3 linked regions of the Homo sapiens genome follow. The protein of the gene in region 1 interacts with the protein of each later gene in a biochemical or structural test. Each region holds a gene or a part of one and is shown in the gene's direction. Other genes may lie near its edges.

The links.
Region 2: the proteins of RARA (region 1) and FOXO1 form a complex in vitro, tested with the Homo sapiens proteins (one study listed by BioGRID).
Region 3: the proteins of RARA (region 1) and TRIM24 form a complex in vitro, tested with the Homo sapiens proteins (3 studies listed by BioGRID).

The regions. Positions count from the first base shown.
Region 1 is NC_000017.11:40,326,091-40,329,840, forward strand, and holds part of RARA (retinoic acid receptor alpha), read left to right. Parts: exon of another isoform or gene 1-1,394; intron 1,395-3,750. UniProt on the Homo sapiens protein: Receptor for retinoic acid. Retinoic acid receptors bind as heterodimers to their target response elements in response to their ligands, all-trans or 9-cis retinoic acid, and regulate gene expression in various biological processes.
Region 2 is NC_000013.11:40,659,944-40,663,693, reverse strand, and holds part of FOXO1 (forkhead box protein O1), read left to right. Parts: intron 1-3,750. UniProt on the Homo sapiens protein: Transcription factor that is the main target of insulin signaling and regulates metabolic homeostasis in response to oxidative stress.
Region 3 is NC_000007.14:138,582,233-138,585,982, forward strand, and holds part of TRIM24 (transcription intermediary factor 1-alpha), read left to right. Parts: intron 1-1,617; coding exon 1,618-1,767; intron 1,768-2,509; coding exon 2,510-2,719; 3' UTR 2,720-3,750. UniProt on the Homo sapiens protein: Transcriptional coactivator that interacts with numerous nuclear receptors and coactivators and modulates the transcription of target genes.

The DNA.
Region 1 (3,750 bases):
GAGGGAAGCAGACCCTGGGAAATGGGTAATTCTCCCTCCTGGCCCCGTCAACAGATGTTGCCCTGGGTGGGGTGAGGCAAGGGAAAGCAGGCCGACTGCTGAGGGGCACCAAGGTGGTGGCAAGAGGCATGGGGATGGAGGGCTCCAGTTGCCCGGGCCTCCCCTGTGCCAAGCTCTGGTCTGGGTGCTTTCCAGGACTTCCTGTCTGAAATCGCACAGCTCGTTGTTGAGGTAGGCAGTTCACAGGCGAGTAAACAGATGCTTAGAGAGGTTAAGTGACTTGCGTAAGGTCACCCAGAGTGGCAGAGCTGAGATTTGACCCTTCCGACTTCTGGTTCTTTCTCCCATCTTCGTGGCTCAGAAAGCTCTCACCTTTTTCTCTAGGTGTGTGACTCTGGGGTGTAACGCGTGGGCAGCTAGGGATGCTGATGCTGGAGAAGGGATCCTGGCACCTTCTGAGGGTGAGAGCGGCCCCAGTGGGCAGGAGTGTGGGGCTGGTTGCAGGTGCTCTAGCCCCCTACCCCTTTTTCTGCTGTGCTTAGGCTAGGCTCCATATATTGGAGGTGTGGGCCTGTGGTTTTCTCTCTCTCAGGGGAGGGTGCCCGTGGGCAGTGGAGGTGGCTGGCATAGGGTGGAGGTTGGATGTGGGTAGTTTGTTTTCCCTCTCTTTGGTACTGGTTTCGATTCTCTGCCGAGGCCTTCTCCACCCCTGGGGTGTAGGGGGCTGGGGCCCAGGTGTCTCTCTGAGGGTCATAGCTTCTGATGGACCTTCTGAGGCAGAGTCTGTGCCCTTTTGGGCCCACCCTGGTCATCCCTACCCTTGCCCATCCCTGTTCTCTGGTCTTTCTGGCCCTTGGCCTATTTCTGTGACCTTTAGCCCTCCTGCGGCTCAAGGCCCTCCCCAGGGAGCTGAGTAAATTTGCACTGAAATTTGCAGGCAGAGCTGGGTTAGGCTTTTTGGAGGCTCTGATAGGGGTCTGGGGAGGCCTTCCAGCCTTGCCCTGTAGTGTGTGTGGGTGGTGGGCTGGGGGTGAGGTGGGGGTAGTGGGGATTGAAGTTTGATTCAATTTCAAACTCCACTGGGGCAGAGTTGAGGTGGCTGTGGTTTTCTCTTCTCTGGGAGCAAGGGTGGGTTCCAGAGGGTCCAGGCTGGACTGACTAAACTGGCCTCCCGACCCCCAAAGGCTGGGTCAGGATGCCTGAGATCTGGAGTGATGGCTTTCTGGGCCTCAGCGTGGGTTACAGAGGCCTCACTTTGGGTTAGCTGCCCCTTGGGCCTCACCTTGAGAGAGGCAGGCCTCTGTGGATGTGAATTCACCTGAGTGTTTGTGGACCTGGTGCATGGGCTGGGCCCACAGGGAGGACCTCAGAGCATCTTCTGGCAGAAGCAGCAGGTACAAGGGCCACCCTGGCTGTGTGAGGTTCGGAGAATGTACAGTTTGGGAGACTGTGGGGCTGTGGTTGTGTCTTTGGGGAGCTGTGTACTGGGGCCCATGCATGCAGTTTCTGAGCTGTGTTCATTGTGTGGTGGAGCCCAGGTGTGGAGAGATGGTATCTCCAGGTTCCTTCTCCTCACATGCATGCCTGCACACACACAGGCTGGGGCTGCAGGCGTGCTCTTGCCCACCCAGATGTTTTCTGTAGACCTGCATGCATGAGTTTGTATGTGTATTTGTGTGTGAGGGTCCAACTGTAGGAACTGATGAGGTTCTGCCAGCCTCTTCTTCCCTTGCATGGCTCCCCCAGCTCCAGTTCCCGTTGTGTGGGGCCCCACAGGAGTTGGGAGGGGGCCAGGGCGGCAACTGGTCCAGTGGGTGGGGCCCCTGTTCCTCTGACATCAGCCCTCTCAGCCTAGGAGGGAATTGGCAGGGGCCTGGGGTAGGAAGGGAGCTCTTTATTCAGGAGTGAGGAGAGAGGCCCTATGATTGTCATAATGAGTAACAGTAAAAATCGTGGTTATTAGCAAGGTCCAGATTTTACTCCTGGGGCAGCCTCCCCTCCCTAGCCCAGTACCTGTCCCCTCCCACCCTCTCTCCCTCAGTTCCACACAGGCTGGCTGGCTCAGCTGGGCCAGAATTCCTGGCCTCTTCCACAGTGGCCTTGGCAGGAACTCCCCCTTCCCAGGCCTGGTCTTCAACCAAATGCTGGCCATGTGCTTGTCCCCTGGACTCCAGATTTGAGGCTAGAGTCTGGAGTTCAGAGCTTGGAACCTAGTGTAGCCTGAGCTTGGGGTGGAGTGGCAAGGTATAGGGGGTGTTGGAAATGGACAGTCCTTATTTTGAGTCTCTGTGGCCCTGTTTCTTTTCTTTCTTTCCTCTTCTTTTTAAAACAGCTTTATTGAGATATAATTCACATACCATAAAATTTACCCATTAAAGTGTACAATTCAGTGGTTTTAGTATATTCAGAGTTGTGCAACTACCACCACAATCAATTTTAGAACACTTTCATCACCCCAGAAAGAGCCCCCATACCCAGCAACAGTCACTTCCCATATTCCTCAAATCCACGCCCCAGCTCCTGGTAACCACAAGTCTGCTTTCTGTCTCTATAAATGTGCCTATCCTGGATATTTCATATAAATGGAATCCTACAATACATGGTCTTTGTAACCGGTATAATGTTTTCAAGGAATATCCATATCATAGTATCAGTACTTCATTCTTTTTTTGGCAGAATAATGTTCCATTGTAGGGACATACAACATTTTATTTATTCGTCAGTTGATGGACTTTTGGGTTGATTCCACTTTTTGACTATTAGGAATAACGCTGCTGTGAATGTTCATGTATAAGTCTTTCTGTGGACTTACGTTGTCATATCTCTTGGGTAGATACCTAGGAGTAGAATTGCTGGGTCATATGCCATCGCTGTGTTTAACCTTTTGAGGAACTGCCAAACTGTTTTCCAAAACAGCTATTCTATTTTACATTCCCACCAGCAATATATGAGGATTCCAATTTCTCCACATCCTCGCCAGTACTTGTTATTATCTGTCTTTCTTATTAGAGCTAGCCTAGTGGGTATGAAGTGGTATCTCATTGTGCTTTTTTTTTTTTTGAGATGGAGTCTCACTCTGTTGCCCAGGCTGAAGTGCAGTGACACAATCTCGGCTCACTGCCTCCCAGGTTCAAGCAATTCTCGTGCATCAGCCTCCTGAGTAGCTGGGATTACAGGCATGTGCCACCACGCCTGGATAACTTTTGTATTTGTGTGTGTGTTTTTTTTTTTTTGGAGACGGAGTCTTGCTCTGTTACCCATGCTGGAGTGCAATGGTGTGATCTCAGCTCACTGCAACCTCCACCTCCCTGGTTCAAGCGATTCTCCTGCCTCAGCCTCCCAAGTAGCTGGGATTACAGGCACCTGCCACCATGCGCAGCTAATTTTTTAGTAGATTTTTGTATTTTTTAGTAGAGATGGGGTTTCGGCATGTTGGTCAGGCTGGTCTCAAACTCCTGACCTCAGGTGATCCACCTGCCTCAGCCTCCCAAAGTGCTGGGATTATAGGTGTGAGCCACCGCACCCAACTGACTTTCGTATTTTTAGTAGAGACAGGATTTTGCCATGTTGGCCAGGCTGGTCTTGAACTCCTGACTTAGGTGATCTACCTGCCTTAGCCTCCCAAAGTGGTGGGATTACAGGCGTGAGCCACCGCCCCCAGCCTCATTGTGCTTTTGATTGGCCATGTTTCTTTTTGTCTGTCTCTTTTCTTTTGTCTTTCATATATGTATTTTTCATATATAAATACAT
Region 2 (3,750 bases), on another chromosome or scaffold:
GTGCCTTCTTACCGTTAAGTTCAGCATATATTCTATTAAGTCACAAAATCGAAATTGTCTGCCAAATCTTGTTTTACTTAACATTTGAATTTAAGTACTTGACTTACTTGCTCATCTATCAATTCCACTTCAGCTGTTACAGAGTATTAGCCATTTAAAAAAAAAATCCTCCCCCCTTTTTTTGCATTCAAAGTACAGTGTGTACTTACACCATTCTTTAGTCCTTGGAAATGGATACAACCTACTTCAACTTGCTGGAGTGCCTTTCTTTAAAGATAAAGGAAGTGTTTTGGGATATTTTTAGTTTTGCGTCTCAAATGGCATTGTCAGAGTGTTAGTCTTAAACTAGGAATATGCTTACACTTTTTAAGATTTAGGTTTTTAAAAAATAGATTCTGATGTTAAATCATCTTTACAACCATTTTTATCAGGTTCTTGTTCTGATTTTTTTAAAAATGCAAGAATAATTTAGTTTTTTTTTAAATTTATTTGCCAGAGCTAGGAGACCTGTTAAGTTATCTGTCTGGAATTGGAGGCCCTTGGGCAGCTCCCAGTGGGAGCCTAATGGGGCTTTGCTTTGGAGTAGGCTGCCTTTCTCAAATGAGTAAGTGTTTCAGGTGTAATGTCAGTTGGTTTAAGTCTGATTGCAGCAAGTACATTTTCAGTTTGAGTAAAAGGGTATTTTAAGAAGAAAAGAAACAACCTGAGCTGTTCTAACTCATAACTAGTCTTTTGGTTAGTTTCATAAAAATGAGTTACTTGTTAAAACCAAGTTTCACTCTCAGATCTGAAAGACTCCTGTTCTAAGAGTCATAAAAGAGAAATTTTACTATGAATTTTAACTTAAATCCAGTTTTTAAATGCAAAGCAACCAAAACTTAACTGTTTTAGGACCGAGGAGAGGTTGCTTTGGCACAAAATATTTCCTGTGATTTACTACTGGGAATTAGGCTGAATCTTTAATTAAATAGTTTCTTGTGTGCTGCTTCCTGGGGCCTGCCTGAAAGTTTGAGTCATTTGCATAGGACAAACTAGTTGGAAAACTGTTAATGAATTCAAAAACTTTTAATGTCATTCTTTAGATAGTTAAGTGCTGGTTATATTTGAAGGATATGCATTTTGTGTTTGTGGGGATGGTATGTTAAATGTCTTACACTTGTTGTAATATTGGCTAGAATTGCTATAAGGTCACACACAAAGTGGAACCTAAGACTTTTGGAAAACCCGGGATCTTCTAAATCTAGTGCAGTATTTATAAATAATGAAACTTCATTTCCATGACCTGTTTTTTCACATAGAAAGCCTTCTAAAGCTTGGGAAGTGGTAGTTTGAACTCTGATTTTTTTTAATAAATGGCAGTTTTGAGTTGACTCTTTTGATATTATTAGGAACACTTTAGGTTAAAAGAATGACTTTGACTATACCACTTAACTCTTGTTAAATAAATTTTTAGATTGTTTTATTAGAGGTATCCTCTTTGATTTAAAGATAAATATCTTTTTTTTTTTTTTTTTTTTTTTTTTGAGTCAGAGTCTCACTCTGTTGCCCAGGCTGGAGTGCAGTGGCGCAATCTCGGCTTGCTGCAACCTCCGCCTCCCAGGTTCAAGCAATTCTTCTGCCTCAGCCTCCCGAGTAGCTGGGACTACTGGCACGTGCCACCATGCTTGGCTAATTTTTGTATTTTTAGTAGAGAGGGGGTTTCACATATTGGCTTGGCTGGCCTCGAACTCCTGACCTCGTGATCTGCCTGCCTTGATCTCCTAAAGTGCAGAGATTACATGCGTAAGCCACCGTGCCTGGCCCCAAAGCTTTTTATTTTTAAGATAAATCTTTAATTGGGAGTGATGTTTCTTATTTGGCCTATGAACTGACAGTGGATTTCCTTATGTTTTGAAATAAATATTCTGTAATTTGGGTATAATCTATAGGTGAGTAATTGAACCAGCCACAGAGATCCCGTTAGAAAGATGGCTGCTTTTTTGTTGCATGGTCACATTTGACTTAGAGAATCCTGGTGAGACCGAGTGGTTAGAGGATCTGAGACATCTTTCCTACTTCTGGATTGTCACTGAAATTACCTTAAAGAAAGCCTTGATAGGCTGGGCGTGGTGGCGCACACCTGTAATCCCAGCACTTTGGGAGGCTAAGGTGGGCGGATTGCCTGAGCTCAGGAGTTCAAGACCACCCTGGGCAACATGGTGAAACCTCATCTCTACTAAAATACAAAAAATTAGCCGGGTGTGGTGGCAGGTGCCTGTAGTCCCAGCTATCGTGCCAATAATCCCAACTACTCGGGAGGCTGAGGCAGGAGAATCGCTTGAACCTAGAAGGCGGAGGTTGCAGTGAGCCGAGATCACGTCACTGACCTCCAACCTGGGCAACAGAGGGAGACCCTGTCTCCAAAAAAAAAAAGAAGAAAGCCTTGATAATCCTGTATATGTACTTGGGGAAGCGATAATGAAGAAATAATTTAAAATGGATGAGGGGGTTATGCAGCTAAATGTAGCATCTTATTAAGGGCTGAAAGTTACCTGAATCTATTTGAGAGCTAAAACATTTTGTTCAGAAATTCCAAAATAGATGCCAAATTGGAATACTTCATTTCAGACTCCCAAGAGCTTTACTTTTTACGCATGGTTTTGTGGCATGTCCTTGGTTGAGGGGATGGCGAGAAGAGTGGCCTCTTTTTGAATGATTCTCATTTTTGTTGTTGTTGTTGTTGTTGTTGTTGTTGTTGTTGTTGTTTTTCTGAGCCAGGGTCTCACTCTGTTGCCCAGGCTGGAGTGTAGTGGCTTGATCTCAGCTCACTGCAACCTCTGCCTGCCCCTGGCTCAAGTGATCCTCCCACCTCAGCCTCCCGAATAGTTGGGATTATCGGCACGAGCCACTGCTCATGGACTAGTTTTTTTTAAGTGACAAACACTTGACTATTGAAAATAAGGCATTTTAATTCTCATGTAAACTTGAAAAAAGTTAAAGGTCTTCAAGATCCCAAAATTGCTGAAAAGGTATCACATTAGCAGCAGACACATAGATTTCATGCTCCGCACACACAAGGAATCTTCTCCGAGGCGATACGAAATGGGATGAGGGGGAAGAATATTCAGTGGCAAGTTAGAATGCCTTGCAGACTGTAAACATGTTGCCTGTCCTTGTGCTTCTAGCCCCTTCATCCAAGCATCTAAACTGCAGTTTTGTGTTAGGCTTTCTAAGATAGCAGCTGTATTTGGCTGGAATTTCTCTGGGGAAGCCTGAATGATTTGCATTTTTCTGGAACACTCTGCCCTTGGAAACTACCCAGTTCCCTGGCATCATGGGAATTTACCCAGCCATTTTTTTGGCCTATATGTGCTGTAGCTTTGGGGCTTTTTGGGGATCCTCTTGGAAAGGCAGTGTAAATACCACATAGTGATTGGGGAAGGCAGAATTTTCAATTGTGTGGGAGTTGGTCTGCTTCCCTGCAGTTCAAGATTTGCCTTTGCCTTTGTAGCAACAACTTGCAGAGACTTGCCCAGCCCCCCCAGGATCTCCCTGGGGTCATATAACCAAGCACCTTTTCTTGGTACATAAAGAATTCTGATGCTTCTGGTGGTGTTCCTCAGCTGTGAAACAGAAGACCACATGTACTTGAAAAAGTATGTATTTTGATGCCTAAGGGATATGCTGTGTACAAATACTTAGAGTGTGGAAGACATCTTCCTCTTTGCCAGTTGCTGATGAGGATGAACAAAAATCAAGTCAGTGGCACAG
Region 3 (3,750 bases), on another chromosome or scaffold:
GTTCATATTGAAAGTTTGATGTGACTGTGGCCGGGCGCGGTGGCTCACGCCTATAATCCCAGCACTTTGGGAGGCCGAGGCGGGCGGATCACGAGGTCAGGAGATAGAGACCATCCTGGCTAACACGGTGAAACCCCGTCTCTACTAAAAATACAAAAAATTAGCCAGGTGTGGTGGCAGGCGCCTGTAGTCCCAGCTACTCGGGAGGCTGAGGCAGGAGAGTGGCGTGAACCTGGGAGGCGGAGCTTGCAGTGAGCCGAGATCATGCCACTGCACTCCAGCCTGGGCAAAAGAGCAAGACTCCGTCTCAAAAAAAAAAAAAAAAAAGTTTGATGTGACTTTAACGCATAATTTTAGAGTGCTGGAAAGGGCCTGGTACCCCAAAAGAGTATTCTTCTAATGTCTGAACCCCGGAGGCGGAGGTTGCAGTGAGCCGAGATTGCGCCATTGCTCTCCAGCCTGGGCAACAAGAGCAAAACTCTGTCCCAAAAAAAAAATTTTTTTTCATTTGTTCTACAGTTTGATAAATCTCAAATTAATACAAAGTTGAGAAGAAAATCAGCTTAGTAAATACAGTCAGCTTCTCTCTTAAGAACAGGTTTTGAGAACTTGATATAGGAAATAAATACCTCCAGGGAGAAGGGTCTTTTGTACCCAAAAGAGGCAGGGTAAAGAAGTCGAGAGGCTTGTAACAACATTACCAACTTGAAAATGTAACCTTGAATTGTACTTTTTATTATCCTGGCTTACAGTTACGTTATTAATACCAACAATGACAAAGTAGCCCCCTTTTTCTTAATAAATATCATCTCATTTAGTCTGTACAAAATGCTGTGAGTTTGGCAGGATTATCCCTATTTGAAATATGAAGAAACTGAGGTTAAGTAGCTTACCCAGGACCATGACACTGAGCAGCAGAGCTGGGGATTAAACCCAGATTCAAAGTCCTTCTTCCTCTTGTATAATACATGCAGCAAAAACATGTCAGATTCTACTAGAAATGATATTCTTCCTAGTAATTGCTTTTTGTTTAATAATGAAGAAAAAAATCTAGATGATTAAGAGGAAATATGTGAAGACAAGTTTTTTCATTAAAAATAATTGGGGCTGGGTGCAGTGGCTCACGCCTGTAATCCCAACATTTTGGGAGGCTGAGGCAGGCAGATTGCTTGAACCCAGGAGTTTGAGACCAGCCTGGGCAACATGGCAAAACCCCATCTCTACAAAAAATACAAAAATTAGCCGGCTATGTTAGCGCATGCCTGTAACCCCAGCTACGCGAGAGGCTGAGGTGAGAGGATCACTTAAGCCCAGGAGGCAAAGTTTGCAGTGAGCCGAGATTGTGTCACTGCACTCCAGCCTGGGTGACAGAGCAAGACCCTGTCTCAAAAATAATAATTGGTTAAACTTTTGGAAAAAGTCACACAAACCTTTACCAGTGTGTGTGGAAGGCAGTGGGCACTTGTAAACACTGTTAAATGGGTTTCTTTACTAATGGCAAATAGCACAGAGAAAAGCAATGAGAACATTCTGAATTTTAGAGCACATCTCATAGAATATATTTAGGACAAGGTGGAATTTAGCTATTTGTATTATAACATCTCATTTTTTTAATAGGTGCCTGATTATTACAAAATAATTAAAAATCCAATGGATTTGTCAACCATCAAGAAAAGACTACAAGAAGATTATTCCATGTACTCAAAACCTGAAGATTTTGTAGCTGATTTTAGATTGATCTTTCAAAACTGTGCTGAATTCAATGAGGTGAGGCTAGGGGAGGGAAGGGGGCAGGAAGGAACAGCAGTGTGAAAATCATTTTATTACTAAACACCTTGTCAACATAGGAGACCAAGATGTCTGAGTTAGAATAAATTTCCAACTTTTCAGATCAGGGAATGCAAGAGATAATTCAGATAACTCTGTCCACATTTATATTCAAAGGTTTATTAGATGGTGATGGAAATGCAAATTACAGCTGATAACTGAAAGACAAAATGTTTTTCTCTGACCTAGACATATTCTTTATCATTCCCACCTGTATTTCTTATTTTTATGTTGATCTTGAAATATTAAGGATGTGGGCCAAATAGCTCTAATTTAAAAATTTCTCATCTGTCAGTTCATCTACACATCAGTCAGACTTAGAACCTTTTGCTGCTGGTGGTTTGTTCTCTGTTACTCATTCTAATAGTACTACATTTAATTTGTTCTAAAAATACCTGGTTCATGATCCTATGGTTATGGAATCCTAACTGATATGTGTTTGGCAATATAGTCCTACCATTACCACCTTCTTTTAGAATAATCCAGGCTTTTACTTTTATCTTTTTTCCACACTTCTGAATCTTTTATTTTAGCTGGCCTTCTGTACAGAGACTTTGTCTAGTCCTAAACTATTATTTCAATGACTATGCATGAACACTTTTCAAAACAGCTCATTAATATATATAATCTCAGAAGTCAAAAGTGTGTCCTTTTTTTACTCATTTTTATTTTTACTCCACAGCCTGATTCAGAAGTAGCCAATGCTGGTATAAAACTTGAAAATTATTTTGAAGAACTTCTAAAGAACCTCTATCCAGAAAAAAGGTTTCCCAAACCAGAATTCAGGAATGAATCAGAAGATAATAAATTTAGTGATGATTCAGATGATGACTTTGTACAGCCCCGGAAGAAACGCCTCAAAAGCATTGAAGAACGCCAGTTGCTTAAATAATATGCAGCACCACTAGCTTGTGCTGGTTTTTAGATTTTTTTGTTTTCAAAAAAACATTTGTCAGTAATTTAACATCACTACAAAAAGAAGAGTTTGTGACTATTCTCATCTCTGTTTTGGACGTTTACTAGACTTTGATTTCCTTAATAGCCCATTTCTGTTAACCTCTTATCACTAAGAAAGAAAGGAAAGAAGGAGATGAATAGAAGAAAGAAAATGGAAAGAAGGAAAAAAGGAGGATAGAAAAAGGATGGAAGAAAGAAGCATTGAAAACAAAGACATTCTTCCCACTTCTTGGATTTTTAAACCACAGTCTGGAGTGATAGCTACTGTAGAAAGGAAATAGACTTTGTATGAACTCTTTAAGTTGAAAAGTAAAAAATATATGTGGTTTGGATGTGTGCTTTAATTCAGCTTTAGAAATTAATACCACTACCCGTGAATTATATGGCCTGACAATATGAATTAGGTGTACTGTACTGAAGAACAGTACTCCACAAACATGGGTGGTAACAAGAGTTCCATCCCAGGAGGCCAAACGGTGCAACAGAAGGGTAGGTTAGATGCTATTAAGAAGGCACTTAATAGTACATCATGTAAGATGGCAACTGTATTAAAGAAAAATCCGGAAAACAAATGTTTGATTTTTGTTTTTGTTTTTATCTTGTCTGTAGAGGTATTTTGGTATAGCAGGTTTTCAAGGCCATTTTTTATACATTTCTAGATCTAGATTTTCAACTTCTTCCACTGAGGGAAGTATATACATTTGGGTTTGCTGTGTGTCTATGTGAGGTTTAATTGTACAGGTGATCCTTTTACAACAAGCCTCATTGTTTGCAGTATAGCTTTTAGTGGAACTACCCAAAATATAAATACAGCAGCGTGCACTGTATTTGATGTGAGGGTTCTTCATCATATACCCTACTGGGCATTAAATATAAGTTCCTCTGAAAGGGACTCGTTTTTGTGGTTTTCATCTGTCTATAATTTGGAATGAAAATGTGTTGTAGGATTTTGGGAGCAGGCAGCTG